Linked DNA regions of Homo sapiens: all the other regions are linked to region 1. The links come from fine-mapping of genetic effects on gene expression. A gene starts in region 1. Each other region holds a variant in brackets. All regions are shown on one strand. Distances are from middle to middle.

What was found.
Region 2: its variant is fine-mapped to the expression of CAPN9 in prefrontal cortex (BrainSeq, PIP 0.95).
Region 3: its variant is fine-mapped to the expression of CAPN9 in prefrontal cortex (CommonMind, PIP 0.95).
Region 4: its variant is fine-mapped to the expression of CAPN9 in nasal epithelium (TOPMed, PIP above 0.99).

Annotation. Positions count from the first base shown.
Region 1 is chr1:230,743,593-230,751,696 of GRCh38, reverse strand. It overlaps CAPN9 (calpain 9), which reads right to left and starts at 4,309. Exons shown (of 20, transcript NM_006615.3): 1 at 3,988-4,309. The coding sequence starts at 4,200. It also overlaps a transcript of AGT not described here. RefSeq lists an enhancer at 1-1,004.
Region 2 is chr1:230,800,309-230,808,412 of GRCh38, reverse strand. It overlaps CAPN9 (calpain 9), which reads right to left. Exons shown (of 20, transcript NM_006615.3): 20 at 6,424-6,843. The coding sequence ends at 6,817. It overlaps LOC124904546 (a long non-coding RNA gene), which reads left to right and starts at 1,297. Exons shown (of 2, transcript XR_007066937.1): 1 at 1,297-1,344; 2 at 6,678-7,030. The variant C/G (reference allele first, on the strand shown) is at 3,905.
Region 3 is chr1:231,019,662-231,027,765 of GRCh38, reverse strand. It overlaps FAM89A (family with sequence similarity 89 member A), which reads left to right. Exons shown (of 2, transcript NM_198552.3): 2 at 7,640-8,104. The coding sequence ends at 7,903. MIR1182 (microRNA 1182) reads left to right here and starts at 7,842; the gene lies at 7,842-7,938. It also overlaps the pseudogene LOC644006. The variant C/TGTGTGTGTGTGC (reference allele first, on the strand shown) is at 3,246.
Region 4 is chr1:230,784,223-230,792,326 of GRCh38, reverse strand. CAPN9 (calpain 9) reads right to left here. Exons shown (of 20, transcript NM_006615.3): 12 at 6,310-6,346; 13 at 4,725-4,805; 14 at 2,138-2,195; 15 at 399-463. All of the region lies in intron 1 of CAPN9-AS1 (CAPN9 antisense RNA 1), which reads left to right. Among named protein-coding and RNA genes, the nearest start is that of CAPN9-AS1, 6.9 kb to the left of the region's middle. RefSeq lists an enhancer at 7,723-8,104. The variant G/A (reference allele first, on the strand shown) is at 3,168.

The DNA of each region.
Region 1 (8,104 bases):
AAAAGCCACCCTTCTTTCTTTCTTTCTTTCTTTCTTTCTTTCTTTCTTTCTTTCTTTCTTTCTTTCTTTCTTTCTTTCTTTCTTTCTCTTTCTTTCTTTCTTTCTTTCTTTGTTTCTTTCTTCTTTCTTTCTTTCTCTTCTTCCTTTCTTTTTTTCTATCTTTCTTTCTCTTTCTCTCCTTCCTTCCTTCTTTCCTTCCTTCCTCCCTTCCTCCCTTCCCTTCCTTCCCTTTCCCTCTCTCTCTTCCTCTCCTTCTCTCTTTTTCTCTTTCTTTCTCTCTTTCTTTTTCATTCATTCTGTCTTTCACATGGCCTTCCAGTGAAGAAAAGCCACATTTCCAGCAAGGTCTGGAGATGCCAGACGCTGCTGTTCATAGCTATGTGCCGATCCCTGTCATGTGCCCAGCACTGTGGAGGCCATGGGGCCTTTGGGGCTGTCCCAGAACAACTGACAACCCCTCCTGGGGGTCAGGGGAGCAGCACAGGGAACGGCAAGCTCACCGTGCAGGAGAGGCTGTGGTCACATGCCACGCTGTGCACAGGTCTGCCACAGGGGTTGTTCACATGGGCTAGAGGGGTGTGGGCACTTTCGGGGAGGTGTCCTGGATTTACACTGAGAATTGGTGGGGGGGAATTGCCTGGCCAAAAATAAATGGGTACAGGCAGACAAGGAGGGATGGACTGCATGGTGGCTGTTCCCCATCAGGCTGGGAGACCTCACCCGATACTCCCTCCTCCTCTTTCTGTGCACCCACTTCCACTCAGGTCCACAGTCCCTTGCATGAGACCTGGGGGTGATCTCACCTTCTCTCCAGGTTGAGCCTATCACCCTCTCTGCCTCCCAGCCCCTCCCAGCCAGTTCCCTGAGTCACCCTCAGTGCACTCCTTGCCCTGGGCTCCCTTGAGGGCAAGCCTGGCTGTCCACTGCCCTCCAATGTCCCCTTGGCTTTGTGCTCTGCCCACCCTCCCCAAGTACAGCTGTGTTTGACAAGAAGGTGGTGCTGAGGAGGAGGGCCGTCCAGCCCCACGGTCCCACGGGCTGCTGAGATGTGCACCGTGTAATGCTGAGTCCCACTGCAAATGATGCCCAAGCCACAGAGGTCTGCAGGGAACCTGGCAATGCTTGTGATTTCCCTATGGCCCGCTACCCCCCGGCTCCCTGCGACTCTATGCTGCAAGAAGAGTCTCCATGCTCATCCTCAGCCCTTTTGTTCCTGATTTTACAGAAATCTGTAAGATATGATGTAAAGCTTCTAACTCCCCTAAATAAGAAACAGATAGGGGTACGAGAATGAGGACCAGACCAAAGGGACAATCTTCAGTTGCAGACAAAGGAAAAGGCAGAACAGATTCTGAAAATGAGTCTGTGGGAACGACAGCAACACAGTAGACCTGGGTTAAGATCAATAAAGGGTCTGCCGTAGGTGGAGACAGTGGGATGAAGAAGGGACAGAGGGCTGGTACAGGGGCATGGGCTGGGTGGCAGGTCGGGGTGCATCTTGGCAGGGGCTTGTGTGTATCAAGGGCCCTGGCCTGTGGATGAAGGCCTCACCCAGCGTTTGGGGCAATGCCAGAGGAGATAATACTAAGGAAGACAGCCCCTTGGAGCAGAGATCTGGGACTCTAGAGTCGCTGGGCAGGCCTTGGTGGCCCTGGTCCCAGGAGGGGAGACTTCTGAAGGGGGAGACAAAGATGCCCTCCATGCTGGTTTGTGCGTCCAGCTTTTATCTTGGAGAATTCTAACTTTGACAAAAAGTAAGTGAGTTGTAGAGTACAGATTACACTTTAAACTAGATGATGTCAATATAGACTGCAAGGATGGGGGCCCTCCTAGAGTCAGGAGACGATGGTGTTAGGTTACAATGACAGCAGTAGAAATAACAAGGACCAGCACTGATTCTTTACACACCAGGCTCTTTGCTAAGTGCTCTACTCATGGTAACGCAGCTGACCCTCATGAGGACCCCATAAGTTGCATTATTGTCCCCATTTTAAGGAAGAGAAAAAGTGCTTCCAACCTTTTCATATCAAGTGCCTGTAGAGAACATGAGCATCTGTATGAAACCCTGGATCAAACAGAAAGAGCCGCTGCTTCTGGCCAGGGGCTCTGCTCACCAGGGGCCCAGGAAATCAATTTCTCTAACTCTATTTCCCAGGGCTCCTGACATCAACTGCAGGGAAATCTCTGCCCACAGTTAAAAATGCACCCACAGCCTGCAGCCTGGGCAGCTGCCCACGCGCCCATTTGTTCATGCGCCGAGGCCGGAAATAAGCCCAGGGAGACCTAATGGTCGTGGGCGGTGCCCCTCAGAGGGTCACTCTTTTATGTCTTGTAACTTCTGCTTTTTTAGTTTGGAAATGTCCTTTTTCTTACTTAGCAGAGCATGACCTACTAATCCTGTCTGTAAAGTGCAACCCCACGTGATCTGCCAGTGCCGTGACCTCACACTGCAATTGGCCATATGCAGAGAACCAAAAACAATCACAGCGTGGCTTCGGTGAGGAAGGTGCCTGGGAGCTTTCACCCCAACTCCGATAGGGCCACTGAATGCTCACTGTGATTTCCCCATGAACATGGCACCTTGTGGGATCAATTACCTGGCAGGTGAAGATCAAAGCACCTGTGTGCCTATGCATGCAGTCACCCACCCCCCACATACACGCCTATGCATATCCACACACATGTGCACACAGTCACACACATGCACATACACAGTCAAATTCCTACACACACAAGTGCGTGCACACACATACACCCCACACTGCCTACTGCAGGAAATAGCAATAAAACCCTTACCACTTCGGAAACACCCACTTAGGTTCACTTTGGCCCTGCCCCTGAAGAGCCCAGAAGTTTTGTGAATGTGCGTTAAAAAAAATTGTTTTTAATCATCAACATTATTTTAATGTTGGGAGATAGTGAGGAGGTAGTTATGATGAGTCCTTTGCTACTCATATGTAAGATGAGACTCAGAGCTAATAATCATTGTAATGATGATAATAATAGTATCAGTAATAGTAATAATGTGACAATAGCTGTAATGTACTGGAAACCTTCTGTGTGCTAGACATTGGCCTGCATTAGCCATTATTGTTCCCATTTTACAGGTGAGGAGACTGAGGCTCAGGGAAATGAAGTGATATGACTATATGCATGAGACAAATTGTCAGGATAAGACAGGCACTCAGGATCTCACTTGTAGGACCAGCATCCCTTGTACTGCCCCTCCTTGCCCAAAAGCAACCGGACCCCACAGGAGCCACTCCCAGGCCCGTACCCACCTGGAGGGAATGGAAGCCAGCCCAGCTGGCGCCGGGTCAGAGGTAGAGCCCTGACTAATCCAGCACCGCAAATATTGACATGGCGTCCCAGGCACAAGCTAGCACCTCTTGGGACCCAGTGACCAGCTGGTGCCTCTTGGGACGACACCTCCAGACTGTCAGAGGTGGGGCACTGTTCACCCTGATCTCTGGGAATGGGGGGTGCATGGTTCTCGGGAGAAGATTCCTGCTTCCCTTGTATTCCATCTGTCACCCGGTTGCTGAGACCTTGCTGAGCCAAACATCCATCCACACTGAGCACCCTCAGCTCTGGGCCAGAAGCCACAGAACACTGTGCATAACGTGATCTCAGTGTTACCACACACAGGGTGGGGGCCTGTCCTTGTGGATAAGGTTTTGATTCGTGCCTATCACCTGCTGACAAGACCCACTCTGACTCCAGGTCCTCAGCCTCGGTGGGAGTCAGACAGCTTGGAGCCGGGGAGCGGGTACAACCAGATGCCCCGGGTCCCCACCGCAGAGCATCCCAGGCCTGTACATTATTTTCTGCCTCCAAACTGCAAAGCTTTCCACGGTAGACTGGGATGATGCACCTCAGTTGCACTGAGCGTAGCCGGCCCCTCCCCAGCACCCCTGTTTCCACTTCCTGCGGGGGCTGCTGAACCTCGGCCTCATCTATGCTCCTTCCCCTGCTCGCCCCACTCACCCCTGGTCGTTTCCACACAAAGGGGATCTGCGGCCTCTCACTGTAGAACAGGGAGGAATTGCTGGCTGGGAAGTCTGCATCCTCAAACAGGGTGCCTCTCTGCAGGCACTCCTGCCTCATTTGCTCAAAGCTCTGGCCTGAGGAGTGGGTGATCCGGGCGTCCTTGGGAACCGGGTGTGCCTGAGGCCCTGGGGCCCGGTAGAGGTAAGGCATGGCTGCTCCCTGGAAGGCTGGCTTGGGTCCGGCAGTGGATGGAAAAGAAAGTGAAGAAGCGAGCTGTGTGTGCCGGTCAAGAAGGAACAGCTCAGAGGGCCACTGGGCTGAGTGGCCCTCACCTCCACCTATTTTCTGGGCACCTCCCTGTTAGACTGAGATGGGACACGCCCTGATGGAAAACAGCAGAGAGAGCCCTCTGCCCACTCTGCACTCCTGCAGACTCAGAGGCAGCTCTGGGGCCTGGCACATTCCACTCAGAGGCGGCACCTCTGCTTAGTGCGCTCAGGGGGCCTCATGGGAGAGAGAGGATTGCTTCAGAAGGAAAAGGAGCAAGAAACCCAACTGGTCCAGGAGGTGGCTTTACGGAGAAGTGCACGGTGTGGTCTTGAGTCCCATCTCCTGCATCAGAGAATGGCAGAGTTTTGTAGTCGGAAGGGAGGTTGGTGAATGAAAGCAGGATGCATTATGTGAACACAGCTGGCACAGCTCCTGCACAGGCAATCCCATAGTGATTCAGCACTGGGGTCAGCAAACCTTTTCTGTAAAGGCCCAGACCATGAATATTTTCAGCTTTGTGGGCCACGCAAAGTCTGTGCTGCAACTACTCAACTTTGCTGTTGTAGTGACAAAGCAGCCGTAGATGTGACACAGATGAATGGGTGTGGCTGTGTTCCAATAAAACTTTATTTACAAAGGCAGGTGGGGGTTAGATTTCATCCAACCTGACCCCTGATAGAGGAGAACTCACAGAGGACATCGGCTCTTCCTCTAGGGCACATGTGCCTCTTTCATTCTCTAGACATCATATTAATAAAGTTCCTTGTTGTTATAGTCCTACAAATAGGATCTCACGTCTGAGAAAAAACAAATGTTAGAGGATGGAGGTGGTTTGATAAATGTGTTTGCCCATAGAAATGATTATACAGGCTGGGTGTGGTGGCTCACACCTGTAATCCCAGCACTTTGGGAGGCCGAGGAGGGTTGATCACCCGAGGTCAGGAGATCAAGACCAGTCTGGCCAACATCATGAAACCCTGTCTCTACTAAAAATACAAAAAATTAGCCCGGTGTGGTGGCGGATGCTTGTAATCCCAGCTACTTGGGAGGCTGAGGCAGGAGAATCCCTTGAACCTGGGAGGTGGAGGTTGCAGTGAACTGAGGTCGTGCCACTGCCCTCTAGCCTGGGTGACAGAGAGAGACTCTGTCAAAAAAAAAAAAAAAAAAAAAAGAAAAAAGAGAGAGAGAGAGAAAGAAAAGAGAGAGAGAGAAGGAAAGAAGAAAAGAAATGATAAATACTGGAGGGGATAGATAGCCTAAATACCCCAACTCGATATCACACATTCTGCACATGTAACAAAATAGCACATGTACCCCATCAATACGTACAAATATTATGTATCAATAAAAATAAGTCAATAAAAGTATTAGTCACCACGTGAAAACTCTGATGTTCTAAGCACTTTATAATGATTTCTGTGTGATTCTCTAACTAGTCAAAGTTGAGGTTTGGAGACAAGGGGTCTTGAGTTAATGGGTACAGTTAAAAGGCCATGATGTGAATTTTTATATAAGCTCACAGTTCCCAGGAGTGTGCACTCAGTCTGACACACGTTCTGTCTAGTAGATCCTGCATATGGTTTTACAGGGGAGGTCTAGACATTAGAGTTGGGGATATTTGGGTTTTACTCTGCTATGGCCTGATTGCTTGTATTCCGCACCACCCCCCCGACCCCGCCAAAATTTGTATGTTGAACCCATACCCTGCAAGGTAATGGTATTAGAAAGTGGGGCCTCTAAGGGGTGATTAGGTCAGAAGAGTGGAGCCCTCATGAATGGGATTGGTGTCATTATGAAAGATTAGGTCACAGAGGGCCCCCTCCTCCCTTCCACCATGTGAGGACACAGGAACCAGAAAGTAGACCCTCACCAGGCATGGAATCTGCCAGTGCCTTGATCTTGGACTTCCAGCTTCCAGAACTGTGAGCAACACATTTCTGTTGTTTATAAGCCACCCTGTCTGTGCTGTTTTGTTATAGAAGCCTGAATGAACTAAGACAAATTCCCAGTTTTCCCTGGGGTGATCTTGGGCGAGTTATCCATGCTGTCTGTCCCTGCTTCCAAGCTGTGAATCAGGATAATCGGTGCTGCCTGCTAGAGGCATGGCGGGTTTGTGGAAGCAAAGCCACTTGCAAAGTCTGGCACATGGAGGGGATCAGGAGCTGCTGATTCCTCCCTTTCCCCTATCCTCTCTGCACCCCCTGCCACTCCCACAGATGCTGCTGAATTTCATGGTCTCCTTCTGAGCCTGACTTGCCTCAACTTGCAAGGCATCTCTTTTGTCTCTTTGTTTGCACAATGAAGGACTTTGGAACTGGGGTCCTCTGGCTGGGACCAGAGTGCAGTTCTGGCCAGTCCAAATGATTCTTGGCTAGAGATGATGGAGCTGCCCAGGAGTGTCCCATTGCCCACTGCCCTGGCAGACGGCTCTGTTTCGAAGTGATTAAGGAGGGCAACCTAGGGAGACAGGTGTGGCAATGTGAGGGCCATCCATTTCTGGTGACACCTCGGCAGGGAAATGATTACCAGCCCAGATCTCTGGGAGCATCCCCTTCAAATGCCCCAGCAACTGAGAAAGGACCTTGAAGTAAATTTCAGCACTGACCAGAACTGTAAAGGGTTTGCTCAGCACCAGACCCACTCCCAGCTTCAGGGATTTACGTTCTCATTCTCCTCCCGATACAAACACCTCTCCAGGCTGGGGTCTTGTCCTTCCACCTGGGACTTATCTATGTATTGGAAGAACCTGCCTTTTTCTTTAGAGTCTTAGTATAGTTGCTAGGTAATTGGAGAATTGCATCATCATTGTGAGTAAAACAAACATGCCTCAGAGTAGGAAACACACCAAAAAGGTTTAACAATCCTCCAGAACCACAGCTGGAATTCCTCCTGCCCCCTAACACTCTGGGACTCTGAGAATGTCTGCGGGAGGGAGTGCATTCTCAGGATTTACAGCCTCATCATTCTTCCTGCCCAATGTCTGCCCACAGAGCCCTGGGTCCATCTTTCCTGCAGAGCTCATGGCACCGGACTTCTCCATGACTTTGTCTTAGCGTCTAATCCTGCTCCCAGCTCAGCCCAGTGCAGGGCAGGAGCACGATGCACATTTGCTGAGTAAACATTGAACCAATGCCTCAAGAAAGCAGATGGCATTCTTGGGTGTCTTCATTTAGTTTTCCAAACCTTCACTTCTCAGGATGAACAATAGTTACAGAAACTGCAGCCATGCAATCTAAGGTCTACCAGGCCTTGCACACTTCCTCACCCACACTGGGAAATGCCCTGAGTGGCTCAGAGGGAAAGGGCTCTGAGCTTGGGCAGAGAATCATGTGCACTGTTTTTAATAAGCTCTGCCAGCTTGTCGCTAGCCTAGAGATGCAATCAGCTTTGAGCCAAGCGGGGGCCATGCATCATGTTAAGTGTATTTTCTTCTCTTTAGCAGAGCAATCTGCTGAAGTGATTTCTACATGAAATGAACCTGACCTGGCATCTGGGGCCTTCCTGGCCTCTCTTTTCTGTGCTGTTCTTTCTCTGTCTCCTCCACACTCAGGCCTGTGGCGAACTCCCTTTGTTTCTCTTCTTCTTGTTCATCTTGAAGGGCAGCAGGAGGTGAACATAGTGCCTGGGTGGCTCTGGGATGCCATGGGGCAAAACCCCAAGGACAAATGCTCAGAAGCTTCACATGGGTGCAGGGAGATGACCTCTAGGACCCCACCCGGTCCAGGCCTTACAGCAGGGCCTGGGTTTTGAGGGATATGCCAAACAGCCTGGATCCTGCAGAGGGATCTCAGCCCTATGATGGGCTGAGAGTGAGCCCACCCGGCTGCGACATTTGTAGCCCCTT
Region 2 (8,104 bases), 57 kb before region 1:
ACCACATGTTTCATATTAATTCTCCTGAAATTTGCATAGGGGACCCATGAGGAGGCATGGAGAGATAAAAACGCATGCCCAAGGACTTTCTAGACCTCCTCTTTCCTCCACCAATCACCTACTGATCTCAGAATACAGCCTCTGAATCTTTTCTAATAAAAATACTGCTTTGGAGCCAGCACAAGAAGACAGATTTGAGCTCGATGTTCTAGTCTCCTTGTGAAGCAGCTTGCAGTATAAAGCTTTTCTTTTCTCAGAAACACAGTGTCATAGCATTGGCTTCTAGCACATTGGGCAGTGAGCCCCTTTTGTTTGAAAACACACTGTTCACTGTTCCAACTAAGGAAGCTGTTCTGGTGCATTGAAAAGTGACTGCAAGGAGATCGTCTGGGTGGGAGACTCTCTTTTTAGAATGTAGAGGGTAGACTGGGAAGGACAAGAGAGAATGCTAAACCCATACAGACAAGCTGGGTTCAGGTAAGTGTGTATAATGGAGGAGCTGAGTGTGTTAAGATGTTGAAAGGCAGGAGGAGTACAGCTTTCCAAGAAGCCTGGTCCTGATGTGGCCTACAGAGAGTCTTCTGCGTGACCACATTCTTCTCAGAACTCTGAGCTCTGTCAGGGAGTAAGATGAATTCTCAGGCTTGCTGGGCCCACCTCTGCTACCTTCTCTCCATCCATCCAATTAGACCAGGACTGAGCCACACTGACCTGGCCTTCTAGTTCCCAGAGTGAGAGAAGGAATCACATAATTTCAAGGTGCAAGGCAGCCCAGAGAGGTAAAGTGATATGGTTAAGTCCACACAGCTAGCTGGAGGTAAGTTCTAGACTAGAATACAGGACTCAAACTCTAAGTTCAATGCTGCTTCTATTACATGAGCCTGCAGTTGCTCCATATGGTTCAGCTGTTCCCTTTCCTTGGAGAGTCCTACTGATAATGAACCAATAAACCTCCTTGGGAATATCACTGAGCTACGTTCTTCCATCAGAGGCACTGTTCAGGCACCAAGGAGAGTCTAACCCTCTGCTTCTCCTTCTCCCACTTCAGAAAGGCACTGTGGGGCTGGGAAAATGCCCCAGGCTGGCATCAGTAGCAAGCACAGCCTACTCTTGATTCACAGCTGTGGTGACGAGGCAGCCTTCGCACTGGTACTTGGCAGGCGGTCTTGGCTCTCAGTAGAATGGTGCTTTGTTTCTACTAATGATCCAGTACACTGAATTGGGCTGGCACCAATGACCCTGGTACCTCTGCCAACCAGGTCACATGCTCTGGGCTTTCTGAAGCCCTGGCCCCTCAGCGCACTGCGTAGCTCTGCACAGGACAGGGTGGAGAGGAGCCTGGAGGTAGGCCCTGTATTTCAGATAAACATGACTGTGGCCTGAGGCTCTCTCCAGGCACTGTCCAAAGGATTTGGTCTCAGGACCAAAATATTATAGGTTGATATGGTATGATATGTTTCATGTTGTAGGTTGATATGGTTTGGCTCTGTGTCCCCACCCAAATCTCACTTTGAATTTAATCCTTATACTCCTCATATGTCAAGGGCAGGACCAAGTGGAGGTTAATTGAATCTTGGGGGCAGTCTCCCCCATGCTGTTGTCATGAAAATGAGTGAGTCTCATGAGATCTGATGGTTTTATAAGTGTCTTGTATTTCCCCTGCTGGCACTTCTCCTTCCTGCCGCTTTGTGAAGAGGGTATCTTGCTTCCCCTTCACCTTCCGCCATGATTATATGTTTCCTGAGGCCTCCCCAGCCATACTGAACTGTAAGTCAACTAAATCTCTTTCCTTTATCAATTACCCAGTCTCAGGCATGTCTTTATTAGACTGTGACAGTGGACTAATGCATAGGTCTATTCAGATTTTCAGTATTCTCTGAAGGTAGTTTTGGTAATTTATCTTTTTCTAGGATTTTTTCCATTCCATCTAAGTTGTCTGATTTGTTGACATAAAGTTGTTTAAAATATTCACTTATCATTCTTTTAATTTCTGATGGGTCAGCAATGACGGCTGCTCTTAGATTCTTGATTGTTAATTTGTGTTTTCTGTCTTTTTTCTTGGTCAGTTTAGCTAAAAGTTTATCAATTTTGCAATCTTTTTTAAGAATCACCTTTTTGTTTCTTTGATGTTCTCTATTATTTTTCTCTTTGCTAGTCAATTGATTTCTGCTTTAGTCTTTATTTCTTTCCTTTTAAGGTTTAATTTGCCTCTCTCTCTAATTTCTTAAGATGGAAGCTTAAATTATTGTTTTGAGAACACTCTACTTTTCTAGGTCCTGCTTTAGCTTAATCCGGTTAATGTGGATGTGTATAGACATGTGTAAATACATAGTTTATTTTTGTTTCATTCAGTTCAAAATCTTTCTAATTTCCATTGTAATTTTTCTCTTCAACTCATAGTTATTTAGAAATGTGTTAATTTCTAAAATTTGAGGATTTCCCAAACTTATTTTTGTTTCTAATTTAATTCCTTTGTGGCTGGAGAACATACTCTGAGTGATTTAAATTCTTTTAAATATATTAAAAATTAGTTTTATGGTCTAGTATATGGTCTAACCTGGAGAAAGTTCCATGTGCTTTTGAAAAAATGTGTATTCATTACTTGAGGGTAAAGTATTCTATAAATGTCAGTTAGTCAAGTTGGTTGATAGTGTTGTTCATGTCTTCTATTTCCTTGTTAATTTTCTGAATAGTTGTCCTATCAGTTATTAAAAATGGGTTATTGAACTCTCTAACTATAATTGTTAAGTCTGAATAATCTGTTTCTTCTTTCAATTATATCAATTTTTGCTTCATAATTTTGAGACTCTACTATTAGGTACCATCACACTTGTAATTATTATATATTCCTAATGTATTGACCCTTTATGATACTGTAATATCATTTCTTCTCTCTAATAATATTTCTTGTCTTAAATTTTATTTTCTCAGATATTGATGTAGGCACTCAAGCTCTCTTATTGCCAGTATTTGCATGGTACTCTCTTTTTCATCCTTTTACTTCCAACTTTTGTCTTTTTGTATGAAGTATCTCTTGTAGATAGTGTACAATTGAATCTTGCTTTTTTATCCATTTTGACAATCACTGCCTTTTGATTGTAGTTTTTATTCATATTTAATATTATTATCAGCATGGCTGGATTAAGGTATGCCATTTTGTTTCTATGTCTTATTTTTAAAATCTGTTCTTCCCTTACGGCTTTTGTGCTAAACATTTTTTTTAAGTATTCTGCTTTGATTCCTCTGCTATCTTACTGTATTTTTGAGTTATTTTCTTAGTGGTTGCTCTGTAGATTACAATCTGCATCTTAATTTATAACCATCTAATATCTAATATCATTACCTGAGGTAATACTGACTTAATTCTAAGAAAATATAGAAATATTGCTACAATACTTTGTTTCTTCCTCTCTCCTTTATAATATATCTCTCTATTGTTATAAATCCAACAACATAGTACAATAATTAATGCTTTATATAATCTAATGTCTTCAAACAAAATTAGAATGGAAGATAACACGTTTATATAGTCTTTTACATTTACCCACAGATATCCTTTTGAGTGCTCTTCATTTCTTTCTACAGATCCACAGTCTCATCTAGTTTTATTTCCTTTCACCCTGAAATACATCCTTTAATATTTTTCCAGTGGCAGGTCAGCTAATAATGAATTCTCTCAGTCTTTGTTTAACTGGGAATATCTTTATTGTGCTTTCATTTTTGCAGTTCTAGTGGAAAAACAGAATTCTTGATTGAAAGATTTTTCCTTTGGCACTTGGAATGTCATTCTACTGCCTTCTGTCGTCTGTCATTTCTGATGAGAAGTCAGTTGCTAATTGCATTGTTCCCTGTTCATGATGAGTCATTTTTCTCAAGCTGCTTTTCAGATTTTCTCTTTTTTTCC[C/G]AACAGTTTGACTTTGATGTGTCTAGGTGTGTATCTCTTTGTATTTCATGTGATTTTGGTGTGAAGCAGTAGCGTTAGATAGCTTGTGTATACTATTGTTTAATTAATTTATTTTTATTTTTATTTTTGAGAAAGTCTCGTTCTGTCACCCAGGCTGGAGTGCAGTGGCACGATCTCGGCTCACTGCAACCTCCGCCTCCTGGGTTCAAGCAATTATCCTGCTTCAGCCTCCCTAGTAGCTGTGATTACAGGCATGCACCACCACACCCAGTTATTTTGTTTTCTCTCTCTCTTTTTTTTTTTGTATTTTTTATTTTTTTGAGATGGAGTCTTGCTCTGTCCCTCAGGCTGGAGAGCAGTGGCACGATCTTGGCTCACTGCAACCTCCACCTCCTGGGTTCAAGCGATTCTTCTGCCTCAGCCTCCTGAGTAGCTGGGACTACAGGCACGCACCACTACACCCAGCTGATTTTTGTATTTTTAGCAGAGATGGGGTTTCACCACATTGACCAGGCTGGTCACGAACTCCTGACCTCGTGATCTGCTCGCCTTGACCTCTGAAAGTGCTGGGATTACAGGCGTGAGCCACCATGCCCAGCCACTGTTTAATTTAAAGGTAGTAGGGCACGAATATTTTGGTGCCAAGACCTAAAGCATATATTATGCAGGTGGTGATAGACATAATGTGAATGGCCATAAATCGCAATTTTCCTAGGACAGCTCCAGTTTACATCTATTGTCCTGGTGTAATAACTAATATTATTCCTTTCACACTCAAAAGCTGTTGGTTTGAATTATAAGCTACAAAATCACTTTAATTATAGTTAATCAAACTCATGCATGTGAAACATCTTCCTTTGTTTCTGGGTGTCAGTATCAGACCATGTAATTCAGAAACAAATAGAAGCTAAATTCATACACTTTTTTTTGTTCTCAACTCATGATCATATAATAGTCTGTAGAGCTCTATTGAACTCTCCTTCAAGACTGGTTCTATAATTCTTGGATTCTTGCAATGAAGAACAGAGGTAAACCGAAAGCATGTGATAGTATGTAACTCTTTTAGACATTTAAGAAAACACTGGTTCACAACAGTGGGCCTTAGTTGCACTGAGGGCCTGTTATGTGTCAAGTACTGTGCCTGGCACCTTCTACTTACAATTTCATTTATTCATCATAAGATCTCAGTGAGGCAGAAATTACCATCCTTGTGAGTGGAGGAAACTAAGTCTCAGAGAGTTTAATAACTTTCCCAGGGACATATGGATGGAAAGAAAACAGGACGCCCAGTTCATAAACTTCATTTCCTGGGTACCTTTCAAGCAGAGGAAAAATCAGTGAGAGACAGTTATGTGCTCCTGGACATAAAGGCCTAAAGGCACCCTGTGGGAGTGACACTAGACAAAGAAGCTCATATGGTGAGTCCCCTTCCAAGTTTTACCTGTGAGCAGGGCTAGTGTTCACGACATCTAACAAACAATATGGCAGCAGTGTGCATCGATGAGAGTGGGCACAGGCCGAGCACAGGAGATGGCATGTCTGGGGTTGTACTGGCGTGCCCCAGCACAGAGCCTTGGTCCTAAGCCTGCTCCTGAGAGAGGGCTCTTGTCCTGCATCCACTGCTGCGTGAACCCAGGGAAGGGCTGGAAGGTAAAGGAGAAGATCATGGTACCTTGGCCACGATCAGGGACAGGGTTCTGATGAAGCTCCACTTCTTTTTTTTTTGAGACTGAGTCTCGCTCTTGTCGCCAGGCTGCAACCTCTGCCTCCTGGGTTCAAGTGATTCTCCTGCCTCGGCATCCTGAGTAGCTGGGATTACAGGCACCCGCCACCACGCCCAGCTAATTTTTGTATTTTTAGTAGAGATTGGGTTTTGCCATGTTGGCCAGGCTGGTCTTGAACTCCTGACCTCAGGTGATCCTCCCACCTTGGCCTCACAAAGTGCTGGGATTACAGGTGTAAGCCACCATGCTCAGCCTCCACTTCTAACTTGATCTTCATCCCAGCCATTCTCCCTCTTTCCCTCTCGGTATCTCCCGCTCCCATCCTCCACCTCATCTGCCACAAGTGTACCAGTAAGAATGTGGGGCTTGGCATGTATTGAGCCAGTATCTTCTCATGTTACCTCCCATTATTCTAGTTCAGTGGATACTCCTGTTCAGCACTAGTGAGCTATAATGAGGATTCTCGGGTCTGTTTTCCCCCATCATGTTGGGGATGAGTAAGATCAAACCTCACCAGAATCTGGACTCCTTGAGAAGAAATAATATCATTCAGCTTTTCTGACCCAAAGTCTTCAGACACAAAGAATGTCTGGACTGGATAGTGACTGTTTTAGTTACCACCTCTCGTAGGAGGAGGTAGAGATTGTCACCTTGATCCACTCTTATCGGAGATCCACTCTTGTCCAATTATCGGAACTACCTGATGTCTTCCCTGATAAGGAAGCACACTTATGATGCAGAAATGCTAAATTATGACCTCACTCCTTTTCCTCCTCATCTTATTCCACATACACATTTATAAAAACATGTTTTATAAAGGATGTCTGATCACAATGACTGGAGCTACATGGAAGTCAGGATTCTGTGCGTTAGAACTCTGAGTAATTCTTAATGGAAGGAAATAAGGAAAGTAGAGTGTGGGAAAGCTAGTGATGCCTGAACCTGGATGTAAGGCACAGGTGGCGCCATCAGCCCCCTTAAGGCAGTGACTTTACAAAGGAGTAGCACAAAATCAGAGAGTGTAGCTGAGTTCATTTCATTCTTCCCAGATCAAGATGAAGGGAGAAGGCCGGACGATGAGAGGGGAGTGAACCCTGGGCGTAATGGTTCCACACCAAGAGAAGTTCTGAAGGTCAAGGTCCAGAAGCCAAGATTCAGCTGGGCAGGCTGCATCTCTACAAGGCAGCCTCAGATGTTCATTGTCAAATGGATGAACTGGGAAGAGAGAGAGAGAGATGAGGGGTCGTTGTCCTTCCATGTCCCTTCCAGCCTCAGCCTCAGGAGTGGCCCCAGTTTGCTGATATCACAGGAGATCTGCTATTTGATCATTTTGCCTGCCAACTTGGATGTCTGTCTCAGCAGGAAACCATTTAAAGAAAATAAATGAATTCTCAGCACTTGACATTTTCTGGAGGACCTGAGTCCTTTCCAAGTGAGCTCATATCAAGCACAGTTGGTAAGACAGAGACGGGAAAATGTGCTTTCTCCCTGTTAAGAGGACAGCCTCGCTGAAGCATCTTGGGCAGGGCAGTATTAAGTGACTTTTCCTTGTTGATGAGGGGTCCTCTCACCTTTGGGAGAGAGGTGGCCCTCCACCCTGGAGGGGCTGCAGGAAGTGGAAGCAGGTTCCATAGCTGGGGGGTGTTACAAGTGAGCTGAAGGAGAAGTAGCATGGAATTCCTCCTCATTTTCTCTCCCGAGTCCACCCTGCCTCCTCCTTCCCAACAGCTTGTTTATTACAGCATGGTGACTTGGGGCAACGTGATTATATGAGATGGTTTTTTTCTCCCTTCTCTGTCCTCCTTCCTGGGCACAGTGTATATAGTATGAGAGCTACTGTAATGAAAGGTGCACAGGCCTTTTTAGGAAAGTGATTGCAGGTGAGGCCAACTCAGCCAGGAAAATCTCCTGTTGCTTCCTAGGATGGGTCAGGGGAAAAGGAGAGGGACTTTAAAACATGGATACTTCAGACCTGGCTGCACACTGGACTCACCAAGGGGATTAAAGAAAAACAATGCTTGGGCCTCACCTCCAGAGATTCAGATTTAATTGATCTAGGGAGTGGCTGGGGTATCAGGATTTTTAAATCTCCCCAGGTGATGCTAACATGCAGCCAGATGTAAAGATGGTAGGTTTAGAGGGAGAGAATGCAATGGTTTTCACTGTTGTACTGCAGGGTGATGATATGGGGCAGGGCAGGAGCCTATTCCAGCCCCTACACCTGTGGACACTTGCGTTAGAGGTGTCCACACTTCTACCTTGAAGCTGCAGCACTGGAATACTTCCTCCACACTGCTGGTGCTCTGGAGCCTTTGACTAGCCAGGGGGCCGCTGAGTAACAAACCTTCCCACTGTCTCCTTCCACCATGGACCAGGGGCAGCCATCACACTTCCTCATGTTTTTTAGTGACATTACTTATCATTTACCTTAAAGTAAATGATAAATAAAGGTGGACCTAGGGGTCTCTCTTGTTTT
Region 3 (8,104 bases), 280 kb before region 1:
GGGACAGTCGGGGCTGTGCAGGTTGGGAGTCAAGGGCGTAAGCCTGAAGAACAGTCAGACCAGATGGTGGAGTGCTGCCTACGGATCTTCCACCTCCCTCTAGAAAATGTTAAGTGTCGCTGTTTAAACAGCCACAGCTGAGGAAGAGGGGCCCGGGCTAGGAAGTCTGGTTTACTGTGCAGTGACTTACCTTATGTCCTCCGAGCTGATTTAGAGGATTTCTGGTAAATCAGGAAGTTTAGTCTGGTGCCTGAAGACAGTGGCATTGAGAGGCTGGGAGGTGTGTAGGCGTGTGTGTGCGTGTGCATATGTATGTGTGTGCGTCTAATCCTTGTTAAATCCGTCTGAACTTTTGCCATGTGTCGGGTTGTGTAATAGGTGTGTGCGGGGCTGCGCTGTATTCCTAGGCGGTCAGGATTCCTTTCTAGGCCAGTGTTCCACCTGACGACAAGGCAGCTTTGTGAGTCATCTGGGTGCTACAGTGCAGAAGTGTCCAGGGAGAGATCCTCTTTGCTTTCGACTCCCTGCCGGGTGCATCACCTCGGTGGGCCTGGGAATACCTTGGAAATGGCACTGTCAGGAGAAAAGCCTGGAGCCACGTGTCTGGCTGGAATGGGGTCATGGGGAGTCAGAGCCTTTGAAACCTAGAAGCGTTCAGGCTCCTGTGTTTACCTGGGCCGACCTCAAACCATCCCAGGAAGGAGAAAAGCAGACCTGCTCTGATACCAGGGTGCCCACTGCTACTTAGGTGTTTTTCCATTATTCATTCCTGGGGTAAGAAATCGAGTCTTGGGTTTACCCACCCTACTGGTGTCAGAGGGACTCAGCAGGAGAGTAGATCTAGGATTCCAGATGATCTTCTTCCATGGTTTTTGAGCACATACTATGTGACCCCGAGAGAGTGTGGCTTTCTCGATTAAAGTTATTATTTCTTTTATGAAATCCTAGCAAAGATAGGGACGTCAGAGCTGGCCGAGTCAGACTCCTGGGGGCATGTTGATGGCATCCAGATGCAATTCTGCAGAGGAATCCTGGAAAACAGGAGTAAGTCTAGAGGAAAGGCCACGGGTGTTAGTGGACGAGAGGTCATAATGAAAATAGGGGAAGGGCCTGAGATATTTAGCTTGGAGAGAAGAACACAGGTTTGGTTTTTGTTTTAGGGCATGGGGTGGTGGAAAGTAAATGACCTTCAGATTAAAGGGTAGTAGTTAGGAGAGAGTTAAATTAGATCTGTTTGGATGCTCAGCTGTCACACCCAGCATCAAGGGCTCTGTGGGGCCTCCAGGCTGGGAGGCTTTGACTTTGTATAAAATAATCGTATTGGTTTGGAGAGGAGTGCAGTGGTTTGGAAGGTCCTCCTTTTGGGGTTTGAGGTAAGATATCCCAAGTCTTTTCCTATTTGAGAGTTTCCCTTCCTCATGAGGCAGTGTCACTGGCACGTTGTCACCCTGCCTGACTATGCTGGCTGTCTTCTGAGCGAAGGTGACCATCTGGTTCCTTCTCATGTACCACCTCAGTGCTGGATTGGGAGAGGAGCGGGAGGAACACAGTGGGATGGGGCGCTTCTGTTTTCAGAGCCTGGCTGTACCTGCTGCTCCTTCCTGAGGTGAGTCTGCCCACTAGCAGAGTGGAAAAGAAACCATGGAAATACTAACAATGAGAATAGAGGCTATTGATTTTTTTTTTTTTTTTTTAGGAGCTGAGCAATTTATCCACAGTTTCTCAGCTGGTGAGTGGCGGAGCCAAGATCTGAACCCAGGCAGGGAGGTAGGCAGGTTCCAGAGCCTGCACTTTTAATTCTGTGCTCTTCTGCTTGGCTGGCCTGAAATTCCAGGCTTACAGGATAATAAATATAAGTGGCCCAGGAAAATCAGAAAGATATTTGTGTCAAGATCACTGGTTCTTTGCTGGAACTGAGCATCAGCATCATCTGGGTACTTTTTGTATTATTTATTTATTTTTTCAATAGAAAATTCCTAAACTGACTGACTTTTCTTTCCCTCCTTCTCTCCCTTCCTTCCTTTCTTCCTTCTTTCTTTCCCTGTCTCTCCTTTTTTTAATAGAAAATTCCCAAACTATGGATAATTTTTAAAACACAAATGCCAGATATGCTGTTTCCCTCCCTCTTGACAGACACACATCCTTTCGAACTCTAATCAAGAAAAAGAGCAAGCAGTGGTGTCTGCCTTAGGGTGTGGTGGCCTGGGCATCTCTTAAGTTGCCCATTGCTTGCCTATTCAAGGTATGCTTTTGAGATGCCATTGAATAAAGTTTGCTCCTGAGTACAGTACTGGAAACTGTCTGTCTTTCGCTTGCAGTTCATTTAGGACAGAGAAGCAACAGTTTATATAGGGTCACAAAGTGTTTGAGCTAACCATAGATGAGCGAGCCCAAATCCCCCATTTTATAGGCTGGCAGAGGGTCGGGACCTCAACCAAGCCACAGAGGACGGCAAAGCTGGGCCTGGAGACCACGCTCCCGACCTGCAGCTGAGGTCTCTTCCTAAGAAAGTTTAGAAATTCTGGTGTCAAGGGTAGTTGTGGTGGCCGGGCACGGTGGCTCACGCCTGTAATCCCAGCACTCTGGGAGGCCGAGGCGGGTGGATCACAAGGTCAGAAGATCAAGACCATCCTGGCTAACACGGTGAAACCCCGTCTCTACTAAAAATACAAAAAATTAGCCGGACGTAGTGGCGAGCGCCTGTAGTCCCAGCTACTCGGGAGGCTGAGGCAGGAGAATGGGGTGAACCCAGGAGGCAGAGCTTGCAGTGAGCCGAGATTACACCACTACACTCCAGCCTGGGCAACAGAGCAAGACTCTGTCTCAAAAAAAAAAAAAAAAAAAAAAAAAAGAGTAGTTGTGGTAGCAACAGAACCCACCTCTCTATCTGGAAGTCTTCTTGAGTGTCTTAGCAAAAGATGCTCTGTAGGCTGGGCACAGTGGCTCACACCTGTAATACCAGCACTTTGGGAGGCCAAGGCAAATCACTTGAGCCCAGGAGTTTGAGACCAGCCTGGGCAAGATGGCAAGGCCCCATCTCTACAAAGAATTTCTTTAAAAAATTAGCCAGGCATGGTGGTATGCACCTGTAGTCCCAGCAGCATGGGAGGTTGAGGCAGGAGGATCCCTTGAGCCCAGGAGCTTGAGGTGGCAGTGAGCTATGATCATACCACCACACTCCTGCCTGGGTGACAAAGCAAGACTCCATCTCTAAATGTGTGTGTGTGTGTGTGTGTGTGTGTGTG[C/TGTGTGTGTGTGC]ATGCAATGTAATAAAACATAGTTCTGATTTTTATGGTCTATTCAGGCCATAGTAGAGAGACAGCCAGTGTTCACTTGGCAATTTAGAAAAGTTGGAGGGTATGAAGAGTAAACCTGGAATTTAACACCCAATCTATTTACAAGATGATCACTTTTTACCAGGCCTCAGCTTCCTTTTGTGAAAGCCATACTATCTTATGTGGAAAATCTTATTGCTAGGTAAACGAGTCATTTCGGTAATTATAAAATCTGTAAATCCTCTGACACTTTCTGTGTGCTTTTCTACATGCGCGTACCCATGCATCTTTTTTTTTTTTTGGTTCAAATTAATGGTTTTATTTCCATCTTTAACACTAGCAGAGGAGTCCAAAGCAGACTGATATCCATGGATGTAGTTTAAATGTAACAAAGAAAGAGTTGAACTATGTACATTGAAAAAAGGAAAGACATTTTTTCATACCAACCTTTCCCTAGTTTGCAGTTTCTGAATAGTAGAAACAAAACACATTTTTAAATCTTTTTATCAATTTAATTTAGGACGAAGTACACAACTTTTATAATTAACCACTGAAGTTGTCTTCAAGGATAAAACTTAAAGAAATTTTAAAATGGGTGTTACCATATTTTATTAGTGGACTGACTCCAAGGTTGCCTTGCTCCAAGTCTGGGCATTGTGACATTCCCGTGATGCCCAGAAGAAAGTTAATGGCAATGATGTCCAGTCAGGGGGCAGACACGCTACACATCACAATGATGGGAGCTGAGGATTCTGCCCTCTTCAACTCCAAGTAGAAAATTATTATTTTCATTCAAACTAACTGGAAGTGAGCCAAACAGTTAAAAAGTCAGAATGAAGAATAAAACAATTTTCTTTTCACATAGAGGAGGGACACTCCTTCAGCCCCGTCTAAAGTGAATTCTGTGCTGAGTCCCTTCTCCTTCAGAAGGGTAAACTGAAGGTCAGTTATTGCTAACAAAGCCAGAAGTGGCCCCTTTCCCACCCTGAAGATGTTTCACACGAAAAGGCTGTTTGTTTTGCTTGAAGCCCTCTGAGGAAGGAGGGCAGCGGAAGAGGAGGCATGCCGGCACTGTAAGGCCTCTCTCGTTAGCCACCGCCAGGCCCTGTGCTGTCAGGGGCAGCTTGGGCCACTTTGCTGCCCCTGAGCGAACCTGAGGCTCCCACCTACCTGTGGAGTGAAGGAGAGGTTGTCCTCTGGGCCCCTGTTTCACCAGTCATAACCTATGGAGCAGTCAAAGGCCCAAAGCATCCAAGCCCAGTGGGCTTCTGAAATAAACGGCACGGGGTTGGGAAGGATGAGAAAGCCAAGTCAGGTGGGCCAGGTTCTCCGAACATGGGGCAACAGTGACCTGGGCAAAAGGCTGGAACTGAGCGGCTGATAAGGCCACAATTACTGCCACCACCTCTCAGTATCTACACGGGGGGCAGATGTTAGGCAGTGGGAACTGAGGACTGGAGGGCGTGTGGCAAACACCGGATGGATTTTATCAGAAAAGAGAGGACACCCAAACATGTGCCTGTCCTATTTATCTTGCATGTCCTGTGCCAGGTGAAGGACGCTGGAGCATGGGTAAGGTTCCTGAGAACAACTGGTGGGCAGAAATGGGCTGGGATGGGCACTGCTCCACAGGCAACATTAAGCCTCTGAGGGGGACACTAATAGTGCTACATCTGGTGGGCTGCTGAAAAGTAGGTAACGAATGGCCTTTATTGCACTTTTTCATTCTTAGGAAACGGGATTGCCCTGCAGAGCTTCTCTTGATTTGCAGAAATCACTGCAGATCAATGATAAGGTGCAGGCAGAATCACGGGTGACCTCTGACTCTCAAGGGAAGAAGTCCAGTGATTGGTCTTTTCAGGGCCTCAAGGGGCCACTCTTGCACCTGGGATCCTCGAGCTGGGTGAACCGGGTCTGGCTTGGTCAATGTGTGGCAGGCAGATTGGTCGACCGGCAGACACTTGGGACAAAAGGTGGTGTGCCCGGGAAAGCTGGGGCAAACTTTCCAAACGGAAAATTTCTTGGCAAATGTGCAGGTTCTGCAACCAGACTGGAACCACGATTCCCAGTGTGCCTGACTCCCTTTCTCTCACTCTAGAACTGGACCACCCCAGAGGAACAGAGATGGCCTGGGAGGGCCCTGGGTCCAGCGCCATAGCATCAAACTGGAGATAACAAAAGGAAGGGGTTGGAAACAAAAGAGCAGTTTACATATCAGACGTGGGTTTCAAAACAGTCTTTTTGAGCTCAGGAAAATGGAGGCAGATACCACTGGAGAACCTGATTGTCCATCCGTCTCTCCTGGGCGTCTCTGAATACTTCATATATGAATGGAGTGGTACTGTTTGTGGTTGATCTTTTTCCTACAAGTTGGGCAAGTATTAGCGTTCTTCAGGGAATCACGGAGGCACTGGCTACAGAAGACATGGCCACATTCTGTGGAAACGATGAGACGTCTATTCTGCACGATCTCTGAATATCTGTCCATGCAGATAGGACAACCGACAGTACCCGAGGGCCTGAGGCCTATAGCGCCCTCATCCCTGGTGTTTCTGGAAGTGTGGGTAGTCACATACACGTCTCTGTCCCTGGACAACAACTCATCGTCACTGCTCACCATGCAGCTGTCAGCATGGTCCTGGGGCAGCCTCCTAGCATTCCTCCTTGGTCTTCTTCTTTTGTCAACAATCACAACAGAGTCATTGTGAGTCAGATCAACCACCACAGGCTCTAAAGATTCACAAGTGAGGTCAACAATTTCATCTCCAGCAGTTTCCACGAGTTCTATGGGTTCTGCTTCCAAGGAAATCTCAGGGGTGGAGGTTGCTTCCCGTGTTCGCTTCTGGGCTTGTCTAGAATTTATTGCTCCACCTCGACGCTTTCTTGTACTCATTGTGCTCTTTGGTGCCTTTCGTTTCCTAACAGAAAAGGAAGTGATCTATACCAAGGTTTGCAGGGAAGTCGAATGTTCTCAACCTTTCGTGCCCTCTGGTTAATCATCTGGCTTGCAAAAGAATTTGGATCGGGACAGATTTCCAGTATTTTAAAGTCCTGGAGCTAGTTAGGTCTGCAGGCGCTGCCACCGGCGCACTCCAGAGAAGAAGCTCCTTCTCCAGCCGCCCAGGAGAGCTGTACCCATGCATCTTTAGTGCTTTAGCCCGGGAGGCATTAGAATCCTGTTTATTGAGTGGATTGATATTGAATTGCCCTAATAGCTCCATAAGAGAAATTATTGTTCCATTTTGCCATCAACCAAGGCACGGAGATGAAGGTGATAAATACCTTGCTCAGGGGCCAAGAAGCCGAAGGCAGGTCCCCTGGTGTCTTCTTGAGTTTCTTCCCGTTGCCATTCAGAGCAGGGTCTGTGGAACAGCAGCATAGCACGGAATCACCATAGGGGCTTGGTGGAAGCACAGCCATCCAGTGGCCCCAGACCCACTGAATCAGAGTCTGCTTGTTGAACAAGATCCCCGGGTGGTTCTCATGCACTTTAAAGGTTAAGAGGCACCGATGCTGGTCTATGCTGCATTTCCAAGAGGCTTAACTGTTCTCTCTTTGGTATTGGTGTAAACGATGCATTTCCTGTTCTGACTGTGACCGTGCTCTTTTCTCTGGGATGGGTGGTGGGGGAGGGAGGAACTGGAAGATAAACAAGTATATGACTTTTATAAATGTTCTGTGTTCTTTTGCTGCTTGTTTTTGTGGGGCTAGTTTTCAGGAGGAACTGTAGAGCCCTTCATCTTCCAGGGCTTCCTCATATTCAGTCAGTTACTCTGGGGAGGGATCCCAGAACCATCTGGGATAAGACTGACCCTGCCTGGAGGAGAGGGAGGCAGTGTAACCTCTGACCACTGAACTGCACAGAGGTGGGTGCTCCAGGGGGATGTCACGTTGGCCAGCTGCTGTCACTGGCAAAGGGCATTCTGTTGCCCCTGGGAGTTGAGAATGACTGCATCAGTCAGATCCTAACGCAGTAGCAGGGAAGGCCAATGTGGGTCTTCTCCGAGTCTGATTGGGAGAGGAAGTGACACACTCGTTTCTTGGCGTCCAAAGTGAAAGCAGGTGGGGCCACTAGAATATGCAGTGCTGTTGCTTCATCAGGCACACTCAGGAGCGCCAGGGTAAATTCTGCAGGCTGCCCTGGTTGCCCCACAGATGCGATCCTCACTGGACTCAATGAGTAACGTCTGAGGTATGGGCATAACACAATTAAGGTGTTCTCAAAACTGGAAATCCAAAGCATCCGAGTGATGCTCTGAATCATGCGCCGTGTGGAAGGAATGTGCTGGCAGGCGCAGATCGCCGGCTGAGTGTTCCACTGAAATTAAACTCAAGTGCTGACTTCTCGTTTTTTACCTCCCCACCCCTTCCCTCAAGGTTGGTCTCCGCCAGCTGGACATGTCCTTGCTCTGCCAACTGTACAGCCTCTACGAGTCGATTCAGGAGTACAAGGGGGCATGCCAGGCAGCCTCCAGCCCAGACTGCACTTACGCTCTGGAGAACGGCTTCTTCGATGAAGAGGAGGAATATTTCCAGGAGCAGAACTCCCTGCACGACAGGAGGGACCGAGGCCCTCCTCGGGACTTGTCACTGCCTGTCTCCTCCCTCTCCAGCAGCGACTGGATTCTGGAGTCCATCTAGAGGGTCTTGGGAGGGATGTGACTGTTGGGAAGCCCTTCCTACTGGACACGCTGTCATCATTTGCTGCTTCTCTTGCAAGAAAGCACCTCCGTTGTGGACGGTCCTCGGGCACAGGGGATGAGCGCTACCAGTTTCATTTGTAGGCAGGGAGTTCTCCGCGGATGCATGGTGGCAGTCTGCTTTGATGGCAGCAGTTTCTGC
Region 4 (8,104 bases), 41 kb before region 1:
TGGCCTGGGTGCACAGGTTTGGGGCCCTGGGGAAGTGGTTTTAATGATTAAACCACAAATCTCTGAAGAGGGGAAACGGCAGAAGTGGAATGGGGGTGGTCCCGGAAAGTTCACAAAAACAGAACTCTGTTCCCTTGGATGGGATCCCAAAGTGGCAAGAAGACCCCCAAGTCCCTTCAAAAGCTCCCCACCCCCACCACTAGGCAGTCTTGTGCATCTTGATTCTGATCCAATTTCAGCATGGGGGTCCCCCAGCTTTGGGTTATTTTCTGTGAAGAAGACTATTCTGCTGGCTAAGGATGTCATGTTCTTGGAGAGTCTGCACTATTGAAGATTACTCTACTGTGCTTAAAGCCCAGGATCCATGTCTATTTCTGCTCAAATATTTGGAAGGATACGTCCATCAGGGAAATGATGTTTTTACAGGAGATCAGGCTTAGCTTCTTGAATTTGATGTCCTTTTCTGAAATTGCACATGAAAGCTGAATTCAGTTGACCCGATAAGATAAACCTATGTACCCATCTGCTGAAAGCCCAATAATGTGGCTAAATCCAGGGCTGTTGGGGGCTGTGATGTGGCTACTCTCTTATGATGCTGGTAGGAGTAGAAGTTAACATGACCTTTCAGAAGGAAAATTGGCTAAATGTGAAAAAAGCAATAAAAGTGGGAATACGCCTTCATCCATTTATTCTAGTTCTAAGAACCCCGAGCAAAGAATAACATATGAAGATTTTTGTCATCATATTATTTATAGTGGCAAAAATTTGGAAGTGAAATAATGACCAATAGAGAGGCATGGTCAATACCTTAGGCTATGTCTATATAATGAAGTATTATACGACCCTTAGGAATCATGTTTTTGCAGCATATTTAATGGCAGGATTTAAATTTGTTGGAGAAATTTGTACTCCCATACTGCTGCTGGTGAAAATGTGAAATAGTCACTTTAGAAAACAGTTGGATAGTTTTTAAAAACATTAAACATAGAGTTAAGCAATCCTCTTAACTAAACATATAATTAAGAGGATGGTTATGCCACCATGTAACCATAGACTGTTGCATTGTGATGGAACCATCCTCATAACTATATACCCAGGAGAAGTAAAAACACATGCCCACCCAAAAAACTTGTATAGGAGTGTTTACAGTTGCATTATTCATAATGACCAAAAACCGGTAACAACCCACGTGGCCACCAATAGATGAATGAATAAACAGAACAGGGCCCATCCATACGATGGAATGTTGTCTGGCTGTAAGAAGGAATGAGACATTGATACATGCTACAGCATGGATGGACCTGGAAAACATCACACCATGTGAGAAAAGCCAGTCAGAAAGGACCACATATTGTATGATTCCTTTTTTTCCCCCTGAAACGGAGTATTGCTCTGTTGCCCAGCCTGGAGTGCAACGGTGTGATCTTGGTTCACTGCAAACTCCACCTCCCAGGTTTAAGCAATTCTCCTGCCACAGCTTCCCGAGCAGCTGGGATTACAGGTGCCCACAACCACACCTGGCTGATTGTGTGTGTGTGTGTTTATTTTTAGTAGAGATGGGGTTTCACCATGTTGACCAGGCTGGTCTTGAACTCCTGACCTAGGTGATCCGCCTGTCTCGGCCTCCCAAAGTGCTGGGATTACAGGCGTGAGCCACCGCACCCGGCCTATGATTCCTTTTATATAAAATATTCAGAATATGTAAATAGAATCTATAGAGAAAGTAGATGAGTGGTTGCCTGGGGCTGGGGGAAATGGGTACAGGGTTAACACTGTTAATGGGTAAAGGGTTTCTTGTTGGAGTGATGAAACATTCTAACATTATATGTCTACGCATATGACACACATGTACATACATGCAGATACACATATGTTAAGAGTGGTTATTTATGGTGGTGAGATCATTTGTGACTATCTTTGTCATTAGGCTTTTCTGCATTTTTAAGAATTTTCTACTATAAACCTGCATCGTTTTTGGAATCAGGAAAACAAACAATGAAAGCTATTTTTAAAGTCTACCTACAAATCAGCCCTGGGAAGCAGATCTGCGGCTCGGAGGAGCAGGGAGGGGACCCAGGCAGTGTGGTCGCTTGTCCCTCCATAGGTGCCCCAGGACCCCGATGGGGTTGGCACTTACTCTTTTGCAGCACAGCATTTAAAACATACTCAAGTTCCTCTGCTGTCACCTCCATGTCCTGTTGAAGTGGAGACAATTGTTTGTTATAGCCCTTGGCACCTTCTTTTATAGTTTATTTTTGTTTTAAATCAGTTCTGAGCTTCATTTGGCTCCAGTGACAGACCAGCCTTCAGGACCCTGCTGTGGGCAGATGTACCTATCTCCTGTGTAGCTGCAGCTATGTGTCTCATATGTCACATGTTTTAGGGACATGCCAGCCCAACTAGGAGAGAGCCTAACTTGAGAGACATCCCAACCCAGGAAAGCGCATGAAAAGCTGGGCAGGGCAAGGCAGTGGTTTCCCAGCTTCCCTGAGGGTCAGAACCAACTCCTGGAATTGTCCTAAGCTCCTCAGATGATTCCTATGTTGGAGGCAGTTTGGGAAAACCAGACTGAGTCTTCCTCTGTACAGTAGAACCACCTGCAGAGCTTTAAAATAGTCCCGCATCTGGGGCTTACCCCAGGGAATCTTGAAATCAGAGGACCTGAGAATATGGTCCTATTTTTAAGACCTAGGAGTTGATTTAGAATTAAGAATAAGGGTGAATTTCAGAATCATGGATCTAAGGCACTCCAGGAAATCTCAGCAGCCCCCACCCCAGAAGCTGGTTAGAAATGGAGAGTCTCAGACCTTGCCCTGAGACTCAGGCTTTTTTTTTTTTTTTTTTTTTTTTTTTGATACAGGGTCTTGCTCTGTCATCCAGATTGGAGTATTAGTGGTGTGACCACAGCTGACTGCAGCCTCAATTTCCCATGCTCAAGCAATCCTCCTACCTCAGCCTCCCAAGTAGCTGGGACTATAGGCATGCACCACCATGCTGGGCTGATTATTTTTGCAGAGATGGGCTCTCCCTATGTTGCCCAGGATGCTCTTGACCTATTGATGAGGAATCTGTGTTTTTTTTCCCAGGATGCCCAGGTGACTTTATGCACATGTGTGTTTGAGTAGCACTGACATAGACCTCATTTTAGTCAGGGTTTTGCGCTAGCC[G/A]TGTGTTATGCTGTGGAGTGCTTCTAACACATGTCCGTCCTGAAGCCTCTGGGCCTGGGGAATGGGGGTTTGGGATGTTTGGTGTTGGTAAGAAAGCACTGCCCCAGCCAGGCCCCCACTGAAAGAGGAGGAAAGAGAAATGGAGCCATGTGCCCAAGTCATCCAACTACTTGGAAGAAAAGCAGGACATGAGTCAAGGAGGGCTGAACTCTAGAGGTACTTTTTGGTTGTTAATAAAGGTCGACTGAAACTCCTGCAACATTCACCGCTTCCCTTCCAAACTCTGGATCTCCATCTGACAACTTCTGCGCACCCGCATGAACCTCTTTAACTCCTCTGAGCCTGTCTTGCTGGGTCTGACCCAGCATGCTCCAGATAGCACCTGGAGCAGGGAGGTCACCACTGCCTTCCCCCCTCACCATGCTCTGTCCCGCCCAGGGCTGCGCTCAGCCACCTTCCTGCTGTGCTTTAAGCAGTCACATGAGCCCCCATTTTCTCCATCCGATCCTGTGGTCCCCTAATCTCCCTGCCTTGCCTGTTTATTGCAGTGCCTAATATACTACCATCAGACAGCCCCTAGGTTTAGATATCACCCCTCCAGGTGACCCCTTTCATAATTCAGGAACCCCAGTTTGGGGAAACACATGAAGCTAATAGAGTCATTAGCACCTTGACATGAATTAGTTCATCAGCTCATTGTATTTATGGCTCCAAGAGAGCACCTCTGGGGCAGTTTCTAGAAAGACTTCCCTCCCCTGACCCCAGCAGGTGGAGGAAGAGCCTGGATCTGTGTGAGGCTCCATCCAGTGTCCCTAAAAAGGAAGCTGAGCAGTGGAAAGAGCTAGGATAGGGTGGGGGACAGGAAGTTGCAATTGAATAGGGACCTCCTTGAACATGATCCCCTTTACTACAGCAAACAGAGTATTCTAATGGCAGTGATTTTCAGGCAGAGTTCAAAGGAGTCACCTCTTCAAGGCTTGCTCTAGCCTCCCAAAGAAAGCACCTGGGGCCAGGCGTGGTAGCTCATGACTGTAATCCCAGCACTTTGGGAGGCTGAGGCCAGAGGATTGCTTGAGCCTAGGAGTTTGAGACCAGCCTGGGCAACATAGCAAGACTCTTTATTATTTATTTTTTTAATTAGCTAAGCATGATGGCATGTGCCTATAGTCCCGGCTACTCAGGAAGCTGAGGTGATAGGATCTCTTGAGCCCATGAGTTTGAGGCTGCAGTGAGCTAGGCTTATACCACTGCACTCCAGCCAGGGTAAAAGAGTGAGACTCTGTCTAAAGCAAAACAGAACTAAAAAACAAAGCGTCTGGGCCTATTCCAAGCTTCTTTGGGCTCACTGGCCCCATCCACAGCCGCAGACTGTGTAAGTAAATGTTGTAAACAGGGTGGTCTTTGGGCCTTGAATGATCAGTGCTGGTCTTACTTTGCAACAAGCTCCATCATGCCTCAGGATGACGTTGCTGACCAACCCCACGACTGCAACCCTTTGCTAGGAAGCAGGTCCAGGCCCTCAGCCTGGTGGGGAGATGGAAGTGGGGCATGTCCTACCTCACCAGCGACTTGTTCAAACAGAGCCCGAAACCGCTGCTCCTCCTCTGTCTCCTGGTCAGGTGGAGTTGGCTTTGGAGGCTAAAAAACAGCCAAAGAAACTTGCACAAAATGATCCACAAAAAAGAAACATGACAAAAATAGCAGGAAAGAAGCCAGGAGCCTGTGTGCCCAGCCCCATGTCACCCTCCTGAGGCAGTGTGCACAAGCTGCGTCCTGTAGCGTGAGGAACATTTTCTCATGAAGGCTCTTTTAGAAGGTGAGACTAGAAGGACTTTATTAGCTGGACCTGTGGAGCCCTTCTGCCTTACAGACGAGGAGGCCAAAGGACCTTGACCCGTGCCTAAGTTAGGTCCTGGCCATTGGATTTTCATGCTTCCTGCCCTTCCTCTGGCTTACTTCTTACCACCCTGGACTGGAATGACTTACTTCATCATCTGTTTTGATAGCTGGTAAAATCGTTGAAGGCAAGAGTCTGTTTCTACCACTAAGCTCTGGGCTTGGTATATAGAAAGAGCTCAGTAAATGTTTTGGGTGATTTTTGGTTTCTTTGGTTTTTTAGCACCATTAATAAGCTGTGCCCCAGCATGGAACAGCAAATTCCCTCCTAAAAGCAGATCTCTGCTGTCCCTGGACGTGTCAGACTATTTCCAGCTATAGTATCTCAGGGCCTCTTGCGAGTCCTCCAGCCCTTGGACGAGGGTAAAGCCACCCCCATGTCACCCCTTCCACACCACATAACATAGGGGAGATGTAATGTGTTCCCCTGAGTCCACAGTAAAAAACATCTCCCTGCCTCTCTGGTTTTCTTTTCATTGATTAGATTTCTTAAAATACAATTAAAAGTCTACCCACTTCAGAAGCGGCAGCCTTCTCTCAGGTGGAGTTGGTAGTGTGAAAGTTATTGAGTCAAAATGAAGTCACTAATGTTAAGAAAACCCTGACAAATAGAGCTCGGGAAGGCCAGAAGGTTCTCATGCTTATTTGCCTGATAACAAAAATATCACAAAAGGCTGCAAAACCCACAACCTTTCACAGAGGCCCTCGCAACCATACACAAAAATACTTCTACCTCTGCCTAGCAACTGCCTGTCCAACATCAGACTGGCTTCACTTTTGTTATTGATCTTTGTAGCCAAGGATAATTATTTCAAAACAATTATGTAATCCTTCTCATTTTTTCTTTAAAAACCTTTGTCCTCCTTTACCTCCCCAAATAGGTGCATAGTTTACTATGGCATGCACCTTCCCATTGCAGTGCTTTATCCCTAAATAAATAGCTTTTCTTTTAGAGAGTGTCTCTGTGTTTGTTATTTCAGTTGACAGTAGCACAGAGGAAGATGACATCGAACAGAACTTTATACCAAGCACCCACCTCACTCCCATGCCAGGTCCTTGTGGACTAGAAGAGCACAGACTAGAACACACACATCTTGGTCTCCAGGAGGTTAGAATCATAGATGCTTACTTGATTGCATGTAACCATCCCTGAACTGCAGAGTTTTACATGATGCTGTGATTAGAAGGAAGGTTTCCAGAACCATCACCTGAATCCCATACTCCATAGCAACATCAGAAGACTCACCTCAGGAAGGTCAATGTCTACATTTCCATCCATATCCCTGTAGGGGCAGAAAAACACACTGCCTCAATTGTGGATTAACTTCCCATTGGGATCTGCAGAGCTGAAGAGCCCAGAGCCTGGGAAGGTTCTGTCCCTTTGAATCCCTTATTGTTCAGTGCTGTTTACATTTCACAGAGTTTGCAGACCCCATGCATTGACACCCCCACCCTTAGTCACTCAGACCTTGCTCAGAATGTAAATAAGAGGGACAGCCATTGTGTTAGACCATTCTTGCATGGCTATAGAGAAATAACAGAGACTAGGTAATTTATAAAGAAAAGAGATTTGATTGGCTCATGGTTCTACAGGCTTTACAGGAGCACAGTGCTGGCATCCGTTCTGCTTCTAAGGAGGCCTCAGGAAACTTACAATTATTGCAGAAGGTGAAGGGGGAGCAGGCAAGTCACATGGAAAAAGCAGGAGCAGGGTGGTATGGGGGAGTTGCCAAATACCCTTAAACAACCAGATCTCGTGCAAACTCACTATCGTGAAGACAGCACCAAGCCATGAGAGATCCGCCCCCATGACCCAAACACCTCCCATCAAGCCCCACCCCTAACACTGGGGATTACAATTCAACATCAGATTTGGTGGGGACACATATTCAAACTCTATCATTCTGCTATGGGCCCTCAAATCTCATGTCCTTCTCACACTGCAAAATATAATTATGCCTTCCCAATAACCCCCAAAGTCTTAAGTCATTCCAGCATTAACTCAAAATTCCAAAGTCCAAAGTCTCATCTGAGATAAGGCAAGTCCCATCACCTATGAGCCTGTCAAATCAAAATCAAGTTCCAAGATATACAAATTCCATTTTATACTTCCAAAATACAATGGGAGTATAGGCATTGGGTAAACATTCCCATTCCAAAAGGCCAAAAGAAAGGGGCTACAGGCCCCATGCAAGTTTGAAACCCAGCAGGGCAGTCATTAAATCTTAAAGCTCCAAAGTGATCTCCTTTGACTCCATGTCCTACATCCAGGGAACACTGGTACAAAGGGTGGGATCCCAAGGCCTTGGGAAGCTCTGTCCCTGTGACTTTGGCTGCTGTCATGGGTTGTTGAGTACCTGTGGCTTTTCCAGGCTCAAGGTGCAAGCTGCCAGTGGATCCACCATTCTTGGGTCTGGAGGATGATGGCCGCCTTCCCACAGTTCCACTAGGCAGTACCCCAGTGGGGACTCTGTGCGAGACCTTGAACCTCACATTTCCCCATCTGCATAGCCCTAGTAGAAGTTCTCTGTGAGGGCTCTGTCCCTGCAGCAAGCTTTTGCCTAGGCATGCAGGCTTTTCCATACATCCTCTGAAATCTAGGTGGAGGCTGCCAAGCCTCATTCAGTCTTGCACTCTGTGTGCCTGCAGGCTTAACACCATATGGAAGCTGTCAAGGCTTATGGCTTGCACTCTTGCACCCTCTGAAGCAGTAGCCCAAACTGTATCTGGTGCCTTTGAGCAGAGACTGGAGCTGGAGCAGCTGGGATGCAGGTAACAGTGTCCTGAGGCTGCATAGAGCAGTGGGGCCCTAGGCCTGGCCCATGAAGCCATTTTTTTCCTCTTAGGCCTCTCGGCCTGTGATGGGAGGAGGTGCTGCTGCAAAGGTCTCTAAAATGCCTTTGAGGCCTTTTCCCCATTGTCTTGGTTATAGCACTTGGCTCTTTTTAGTTATGTAAATATCTCTAGCAAGTGGTTGCTCCATAGCCTGCTTGAATTCCTCTCTCGAAAAAGCTTTTTCTTTCTCTGCTATATAGCCAGGC